2 linked regions of the Homo sapiens genome follow. The protein of the gene in region 1 interacts with the protein of each later gene in a biochemical or structural test. Each region holds a gene or a part of one and is shown in the gene's direction. Other genes may lie near its edges.

Region 1 (3,826 bases):
GGGAGAAAAGAGACCTTCAGCCGACCCAGGAAAAAAGGCCAAGAACCCGAAGAAGAAGAAAAAGAAGGACCCCAATGAGCCGCAGAAGCCTGTGTCGGCCTACGCACTCTTCTTCAGAGACACTCAGGCCGCCATCAAGGGTCAGAACCCCAGTGCCACTTTCGGTGACGTGTCCAAAATCGTGGCCTCCATGTGGGACAGCCTGGGAGAGGAACAGAAGCAGGTGAGCCTCCCTCTCTTTCTGGGCCATCCCCTGAGGCTTTGTGGTCCTGGAACCAAGGACACACTTTGAAGGTCTGAAACCAGGCCCAGCTCTGGAACTAGAGACTCTTACAGAGGTCTTTCCTGGGCTCAGGTTGCCCATCTGTAAACTGGGAAGCTAGCTGCCTTCCAATTCTACTAACCAACTGCATTTACTAGCAACTTAACCACTCTGAACCTCTGCTTCCCGCAACTTAACCATTCTGAACCTCTGCTTCCCCCTTGATAAAATGAGAACAAGCATCTCCATCCATCTTGTCCCACCAACCCTAAAAGTCTGGAGTCCAGGCCAGAGCTTCCTATCCCACTGACCATGTGCCTGTGGCCTCCTCTAAAGGCCTCCAGGGAGAATAGAGAGCAGAACTAGCTGGTAGGCAAATGGAGTTGCCAGCTGTGTGACCTCAGCCTGACCACCTAAACTCTCTGAGCCTCGGTTTTCATGTCTATTAAAACAGGGGTGCTGGCTACTCCTTCTCTGAGCTCACATCTGGGCTGGGCTTTCCCCCCGGTATGTCACTGAATCCTTACAACACCCTGTGGAGTAGCCATTGCTTTCCTGTTTGGTAGAGACACCAAGAGGTAAAGTGACTCACCCAGGGTCACCAGCGTGAATCAAGGTAGAGTCAGGATTTGAACTCACATCTGTAGAAGCAGGAGGCTCAACTGGGCTGTTGGCATGAGAGACATGAATCAAATAAGCAGATGAGTAAATGTAAAATTACAATTGTGATTGTGCCGTGTACCAGGAGGGTACATAGTTCATGAGAGTGGAAAGAGCAGGGACGGACATTGTCCCAGGGGTCAGGTCACCAGGTGAGACCTGAAGTGTGAGTTCTCTTTGGAGGAGGGGAAGTGTTCCAGACAGGGAGGCCTGGTAAGGAAGGAGGCTGGAAAAGCACAGGGGACTGAAAGGAGACCAGGATGGCCAGAGAGGAGACAATAAGAGTACCCATGGCAGAGACGGAGCTGGAAAGGAGGGCAGGGGCCAGACCACGCTGGGCTTTGCAGACCTTGGAAGTAGTCAGGCCCTGTTCTAAGAGGAGAGAAAACCAGTGAAGAGTTTTATGTAGAGGAGAGACTGGAACGGCAGCATAAGGCAGGTAAGAGTGGATGTGGAGGGTGCACAGTGATCCAGGTGGGGGAAGGTAGGGTCTGGAGCATCTTCCAGAATGGTTTAGGGTAGGGGACACAGAGCATGTCCTGGGAGCCTCCTTGCATCTGGCTTCCATTCTGAGTAAATGGAGATGCCAGTCACTGGATGGGAAATATGGGGAAAGTAGCAGGCTTGGGGCAGAGAGATGAATTACTGACTTATTTGAAACATCATCTTTACCGTATTCTAAAATTTTAGGTAATTTTGGAATATGTTATAATGCAGAGAGTTTATTTGGGAGATGATCCCCACCTCTGGTAGGGGAGTGGGGAAATGAGACAGGGAAAGGAGGGCAGCCAGGAAAGGGCACATTGTCCCAGGAGAATCCACCATGGGCAACTGGAGCACAATCCCGCTGGGAACTCAGGAGCCTGCTTAGAACGTGCCAGGCCTCAGGGTCATCCTGTCTGAGGGGCAAGGGTGCTGGGGTGGACACCAGCATTCCTTCAGAGCTGCTCCAGGGGACATTACTTCTGCAGCACCCCTGGCCTGCTACACATGCCAGGCTCCTGCCACCAGAGGGACCCTCAGGCAAAGGAATATAGCCGGTGGCAGCTGGAAGTAGAGCATGTTTGTAGGACAGGGGTAAGGACTGGGGGATATTGGCAGGGCACTGTGGCTTTTGCTATAGGGACGTCTGTCATTTTCACTTGTGTGTTTCGTTGGCAACCAATTCCCTTTCAAAAGACTTCAGGTTGTTTTTGTTTGGTGGGGGGATTTCCTTGCCGTTTTATACAGTCTGGGGAGACAGTGGTCTCAAGTCCTATGTCCCCGGGCACTCCCTCCACCGATGCTTTCTCTGACCTCATTCAGCGCAGCCCAGAGGCAAGCAAAGGTGGTTGAGAGTCCCAGCCCCTGTGTCGGTTTCATTTCTGCTTACCTGTCTGACGTTTTATTTCTAACCCAAGAACTTGGCATATATTTATTTCCATCCGATAATGGGCATTTCTCTCCTTTTACTTAATGCGTTCTTTTACTTAATGCGTTATAAATGGCTTGTTTCTCCCCATTTTCCTAGCAAATTGTTGAGTATAAAAAGTTAGGAATTTAATTTGTAACTGCCAAGCTTACTATTTATTTTATCATTTCTGATCATTTTTAATTCCTGAGTCTTCTAGGTTTAAAAAAAGTGTCTATAATTATACACATATTTATACATATGTATCTTTTACAAATGATAATTTTGTCTCCTTTGTTATTTGTTTTTTAAGAGACAGGGTGTCACTCTGTCACCCAGGCTAGAGGTCAGTGGCATGATCATAGCTCACTGCAGCCTTGAACTCCTGGGCTCAAGCAATTTTCCCAGCTCAGCTTCCCAAGTAGCTGGACTACAGGCGTGCCATGCATCACCATGCCCCACAAAATTTTTTCTTTTTTTTGGTATTTTGTAGAGACAGGGTCTTGCTGTGTTGCTCAGGCTGACAAACTCTTAGCCTCAAATGATCATCCCACCTTGGCCTCCCAAAGTGCTGGGATTAGAGGCATGAGCCACTATATCCAGCCATATCTCCTTATTTTGTCTCCTCACTTCTCAGATTTCTAATTCTGTTTTCTTTTCCCAGTTATGTTGACTAGGACTTCTAAAAAAGAGATGTTCAGCAATGGCGGGGATAGTGGTCTTCTTACTTTGCATTACCTCTCATGTTTCACTATTAAGCATAAGGCTGGATGTTAGCTTGTGTCAGTTTTTGAAATCACATTTAGAAATGTGACTTATATTCCTATTTTACTATTAATACACTAATAACCAAGAGAGGTAGTGAGAAAATAATAGGAAATAAAAAAACCTTGCCTATCCCCCAAAAGTTTCAAGCCTAGGTGATGGATAGGAAAGTTCTTTCAAATCATCAAAGAGCTAATAATTCCAAGACTTAGAAAAATAAGAAAACCTTCACAAGTCTTTATATACAATGTAACCTTGACACTAAAACATAATGAAGCTAACTGCATCATTTAATTTTGAATGTGTAATAAACAATACCAAAATTTAATGGCTTAAAACAATAATCATTTATTCAACTTATGATTCTGAGGGTCCATGAACTGTGCTGGGCTCAGCAGGATGGTTCTGCTGCTGCTCTTGGCTGGGCTCACCCATTTGCATCAGTGGTCAACTACAGTAAATTAGGCATCTCTGCTTCTGGGAGTTGGATGGCTGTCAGCTGGAGCAGTGGAGCCAAACTGGGCCATGTGTCTTTCATCATCCAGCAGACTAGCTCATGCTTATTCACATAGCAAGTCAGAGTTCCAAGAGCAGTTTTAGAGCAGAAAAATGGCAGGAAGGAGGCAGGACTAACTTGCAGCTCCCACTCGGACAGACAGAGCACGGAGACTCACATTGTGAACTTTTGCTCCAAGAACTACCACAGGAACATACTAGGAAAGCCAAAAGAATCCACAGACACTTTGAAG
Region 2 (4,397 bases), on another chromosome or scaffold:
TGTGAGCTCAAAGAAACATTTCCTAACAGCAATAAAAATAAGCATTAGAGTTGAACAATGGACTGTGACTGTTTCCCAAAATAGCTGTTTTCTTGAGTCCGCAGAACAACAGGTACTGTATTAATGGGGATACAGTATTTGTTTCACAGCGTTGTTGTGAAGATAAACGGGATACCCCAGATAAACAGCTTGTGTCCCCCCCATCTTAACAACCCTCCTTTAGGCTGGCGGGCCACCTGCTCAAAAGCCTTCCCCAGGGGGGTTAAAACCGTCTTTTAGTAGTTCTGGTACGGGTGGGCTGGGGGAGATCCTCTAAAGCCAGTGCGACCTTGACCCCAGCCAATGTCCAGGCTCTTGACACATCCAGAGAATGAGTTCAAGGACAACTCAGAAAATAGTGACAATATGCAGATTTATTGCAAAGGGAAAAGTACACACCCAGGAAAAGGGATTGTGGAGAGGGTCACTCACAACGGGGCTTGGGGCTGCTACCTTTATGGGTTTCTTTAACCAAGGGGTGAAATATTCATGAAAATTCCTGGAAAAGTGTGGAGATTTTTCGGGACTGTGGTGCCACCCATTTTTACTTCAAATATGGGTGTCCCCGGAATTGTCATGGCACTGGTGTGACTTAGGATGTTAAAGAGCGTATAATGGAGGCCTAGGAGAAACCTAGGTCAAATCCAGGACCACGTCGGGTCCAGCCGGTCTTAGCCAGCTTGGTACACACCCTGGTTTTCAGGGTCTTATCAGCCCATAGCCTCCAGTCAAGTGAAACTGCTGCCTGGTATTTTTTATTCTCCTCTGACCAGCCTGCATTACTCCTGTCCCATGTTCAACACGAAATAGGGCCTCAGGAAATATTTACCAAATGAATGAATGGTTGCCTGTTCTAATTTTGTTTAACCACACTCTTGTCCTAAGCTTCTATGATGATACCCAGGGCCCCCGAGTTGTGCCAGTTCCACTACGGCGTGGATGCAAGGCGAGCGGCAGGGGAGCAGGTAAAGGATGAGTAAGGGAAGCCGGCGGATCCGACGCATTAGAGAACAAGAAAAAGAAATCCTTAGAGACTGGGGGCCAACAAAGAGCCAGGCGCGGGCGAACCCACCAGGGGGGCCCCGGAGCCCCACATCCGCCGCTGGGACGACCTCCCCGCCCAGCATGGTCCGGGGCGCGGACCCGGCCCCGCGCCAGGCGCCCCCGGCCCCGCACCCGGCGCCCTCCGCAGCTCCCGCCCCCGGGGCGGTGCCGGGAAAACGCGGCGCCTCCGCCGGTCACGTGGGGGCCGCTCCGGCGGGCGGCGCTGCCGCTTCCCAATCGCGCCCTCCCAGCGCCGGGGACGCGGCGCCCGCGCTCCCGCCCGAGCCCGGGGAAACGGAGACAAGGAGGCGCCGCCGCCCCCTCCCCGCGGCTGCGCCCCAGCCCTGCGCCCGCAGCATGCCCGCCGCCGGGCCGAGCGCCGCCCTCCCCCAGGAGCTCGAGGAGGCGACGCCGCTGCCGGCCGCGGGACCGCGGCTGCGAGGGTAGCGGGGCCGGAGCCGGGCCCCCCGAGGCGCCGCGCGGCGGGCGGAGAGGGAGGAGGAGCAGGCATCCTCCGCGGCGCGCGGGCGGCGGCCCTGCTGCCCGGCGCGCCCATGGCCCGGCCGCAGGGAGAATGCAAGCTGCTCTCCACGCGCTCGGCGTCCCCCGGAGCCGCTCGCGTCGCCGCCGCCCCCTAGCCGCCAGCGCTCGGCCGCTGGCTGCGCTAGGACCCGCGGCCGCCGGCCGCCGAGCGCGGGAGGGCAGGCAGGGGCAGGAGCCGGAGGGCCCGGGGCGCGGCGCGGCATGTAGCTGCGGGCTCCCGCGTCCGCGTGAGGCTGTCGGCCCGGGGCCCCGCCATGGCTGGGATGGACAGTGGCAACCTGAAGACCGCGAGGCTGTGGCGGGACGCCGCCCTGCGTGCCAGGAAGCTGCGGAGCAACCTGCGCCAGCTCACGCTTACCGCCGCCGGGGCCTGCCCCGGGGCCGGGGCCGACGCGCTCGAGTCCCCCGCCTCCCCCCAGCTCGTGCTGCCGGCCAACCTCGGGGACATTGAGGCACTGAACCTGGGGAACAACGGCCTGGAGGAGGTACCCGAGGGGCTGGGGTCGGCGCTGGGCAGCCTGCGCGTCCTGGTCCTGCGCAGGAACCGCTTCGCCCGGCTGCCCCCGGCGGTGGCCGAGCTCGGCCACCACCTCACCGAGCTGGACGTGAGCCACAACCGGCTGACCGCCCTGGGCGCGGAGGTGGTGAGTGCTCTGAGGGAGCTGCGGAAGCTCAACCTCAGCCACAACCAGCTGCCCGCCCTGCCCGCCCAGCTGGGCGCTCTCGCTCACCTGGAGGAGCTGGATGTCAGCTTTAACCGGCTGGCGCACCTGCCTGACTCCCTCTCCTGCCTCTCCCGCCTGCGCACCCTGGACGTGGATCACAACCAGCTCACTGCCTTCCCCCGGCAGCTGCTGCAGCTGGTGGCCCTGGAGGAGCTGGACGTGTCCAGCAACCGGCTGCGGGGCCTGCCTGAGGATATCAGTGCCCTGCGTGCCCTCAAGATCCTCTGGCTGAGTGGGGCCGAGCTTGGCACGCTGCCCGCCGGCTTCTGCGAGCTGGCCAGTTTGGAGAGCCTCATGCTAGACAACAACGGGCTGCAGGCTCTGCCCGCCCAGTTCAGCTGCCTGCAGCGGCTCAAAATGCTCAACCTCTCCTCCAACCTCTTCGAGGAGTTCCCTGCCGCGCTGCTGCCCCTGGCTGGTCTGGAGGAGCTCTACCTTAGTCGCAACCAGCTCACCTCGGTGCCATCCCTTATCTCGGGCCTGGGCCGGCTTCTCACCTTGTGGCTGGATAATAACCGCATCCGCTACCTGCCGGACTCCATCGTGGAGCTGACCGGCCTGGAGGAGCTCGTGCTGCAGGGGAACCAGATCGCGGTGCTGCCCGACCACTTTGGCCAGCTCTCCCGGGTGGGTTTGTGGAAGATCAAAGACAACCCACTGATCCAGCCCCCCTACGAGGTCTGCATGAAGGGGATCCCCTACATCGCAGCCTACCAGAAGGAACTGGCTCATTCCCAGCCGGCGGTGCAGCCCCGGCTCAAGCTGCTCCTGATGGGGCATAAGGCTGCAGGAAAGACTTTGCTGCGCCACTGCCTCACCGAGGAGAGAGTGGAGGGATGCCCAGGAGGAGGGGACAAGGAGAAGTGCTACCCACCGTCACCTCCCCCTGTGAGCAAGGGCATCGAGGTGACCAGCTGGACGGCCGATGCCTCCCGGGGCCTGCGGTTCATCGTGTATGACTTAGCTGGGGATGAAAGTTATGAGGTGATCCAGCCCTTCTTCCTGTCCCCAGGGGCCCTATACGTGCTGGTGGTCAACTTGGCCACCTATGAGCCTCGCCACTTTCCTACCACCGTGGGCTCCTTCTTGCATCGGGTCGGGGCGAGAGTGCCCCACGCGGTGGTGTGCATCGTGGGCACCCACGCAGACCTGTGCGGAGAGCGTGAGCTGGAGGAGAAATGTCTGGACATTCACCGCCAGATCGCCCTGCAGGAGAAGCACGACGCGGAGGGACTGAGCCGCTTGGCCAAGGTGGTGGACGAGGCACTGGCCCGGGACTTCGAGCTGCGCTCTGCCAGCCCCCACGCAGCCTACTATGGCGTTTCGGACAAGAACCTTCGACGGCGCAAGGCCCATTTTCAATACCTGCTCAACCACCGGCTGCAGATCCTCTCCCCCGTGTTGCCTGTTAGCTGCAGGGACCCGCGCCACTTACGACGCCTTCGGGACAAGTTGCTGTCAGTTGCTGAGCACCGAGAGATCTTCCCCAACTTACACAGAGTACTGCCTCGATCCTGGCAGGTGCTGGAGGAACTGCATTTCCAGCCACCTCAGGCCCAGCGACTGTGGCTAAGCTGGTGGGACTCGGCGCGCTTGGGCCTGCAGGCGGGTCTGACCGAGGACCGACTGCAGAGTGCCCTCTCCTACCTGCATGAGAGCGGCAAGCTACTCTACTTTGAGGACAGTCCGGCTCTCAAGGAGCACGTCTTCCACAACCTCACCCGCCTCATCGACATCCTCAATGTCTTCTTCCAGAGGGATCCCTCTTTGCTGCTGCATAAGCTGCTCCTAGGGACCAGTGGAGAGGGCAAGGCGGAGGGGGAAAGCTCCCCGCCCATGGCGCGGTCCACCCCCAGCCAGGAACTGCTCCGGGCCACCCAGCTCCATCAGTATGTGGAGGGCTTTCTGTTGCATGGGCTCTTGCCAGCTCATGTCATTCGGTTGCTGCTTAAGCCTCATGTCCAGGCCCAGCAGGACTTGCAGCTGTTGCTGGAGCTGCTGGAGAAGATGGGACTCTGTTACTGCCTCAATAAACCCAAGGGCAAG

The links.
Region 2: the proteins of TOX2 (region 1) and MFHAS1 form a complex in vitro, tested with the Homo sapiens proteins (one large-scale study listed by BioGRID and IntAct).

The regions. Positions count from the first base shown.
Region 1 is NC_000020.11:44,054,304-44,058,129, forward strand, and holds part of TOX2 (TOX high mobility group box family member 2), read left to right. Parts: coding exon 1-223; intron 224-3,826. UniProt on the Homo sapiens protein: Putative transcriptional activator involved in the hypothalamo-pituitary-gonadal system.
Region 2 is NC_000008.11:8,890,542-8,894,938, reverse strand, and holds the start of MFHAS1 (malignant fibrous histiocytoma-amplified sequence 1), read left to right. Parts: upstream 1-1,308; 5' UTR 1,309-1,880; coding exon 1,881-4,397. UniProt on the Homo sapiens protein: Probable GTP-binding protein. Functions in innate immunity and more specifically the inflammatory response as a regulator of the Toll-like receptor TLR2 and TLR4 signaling pathways.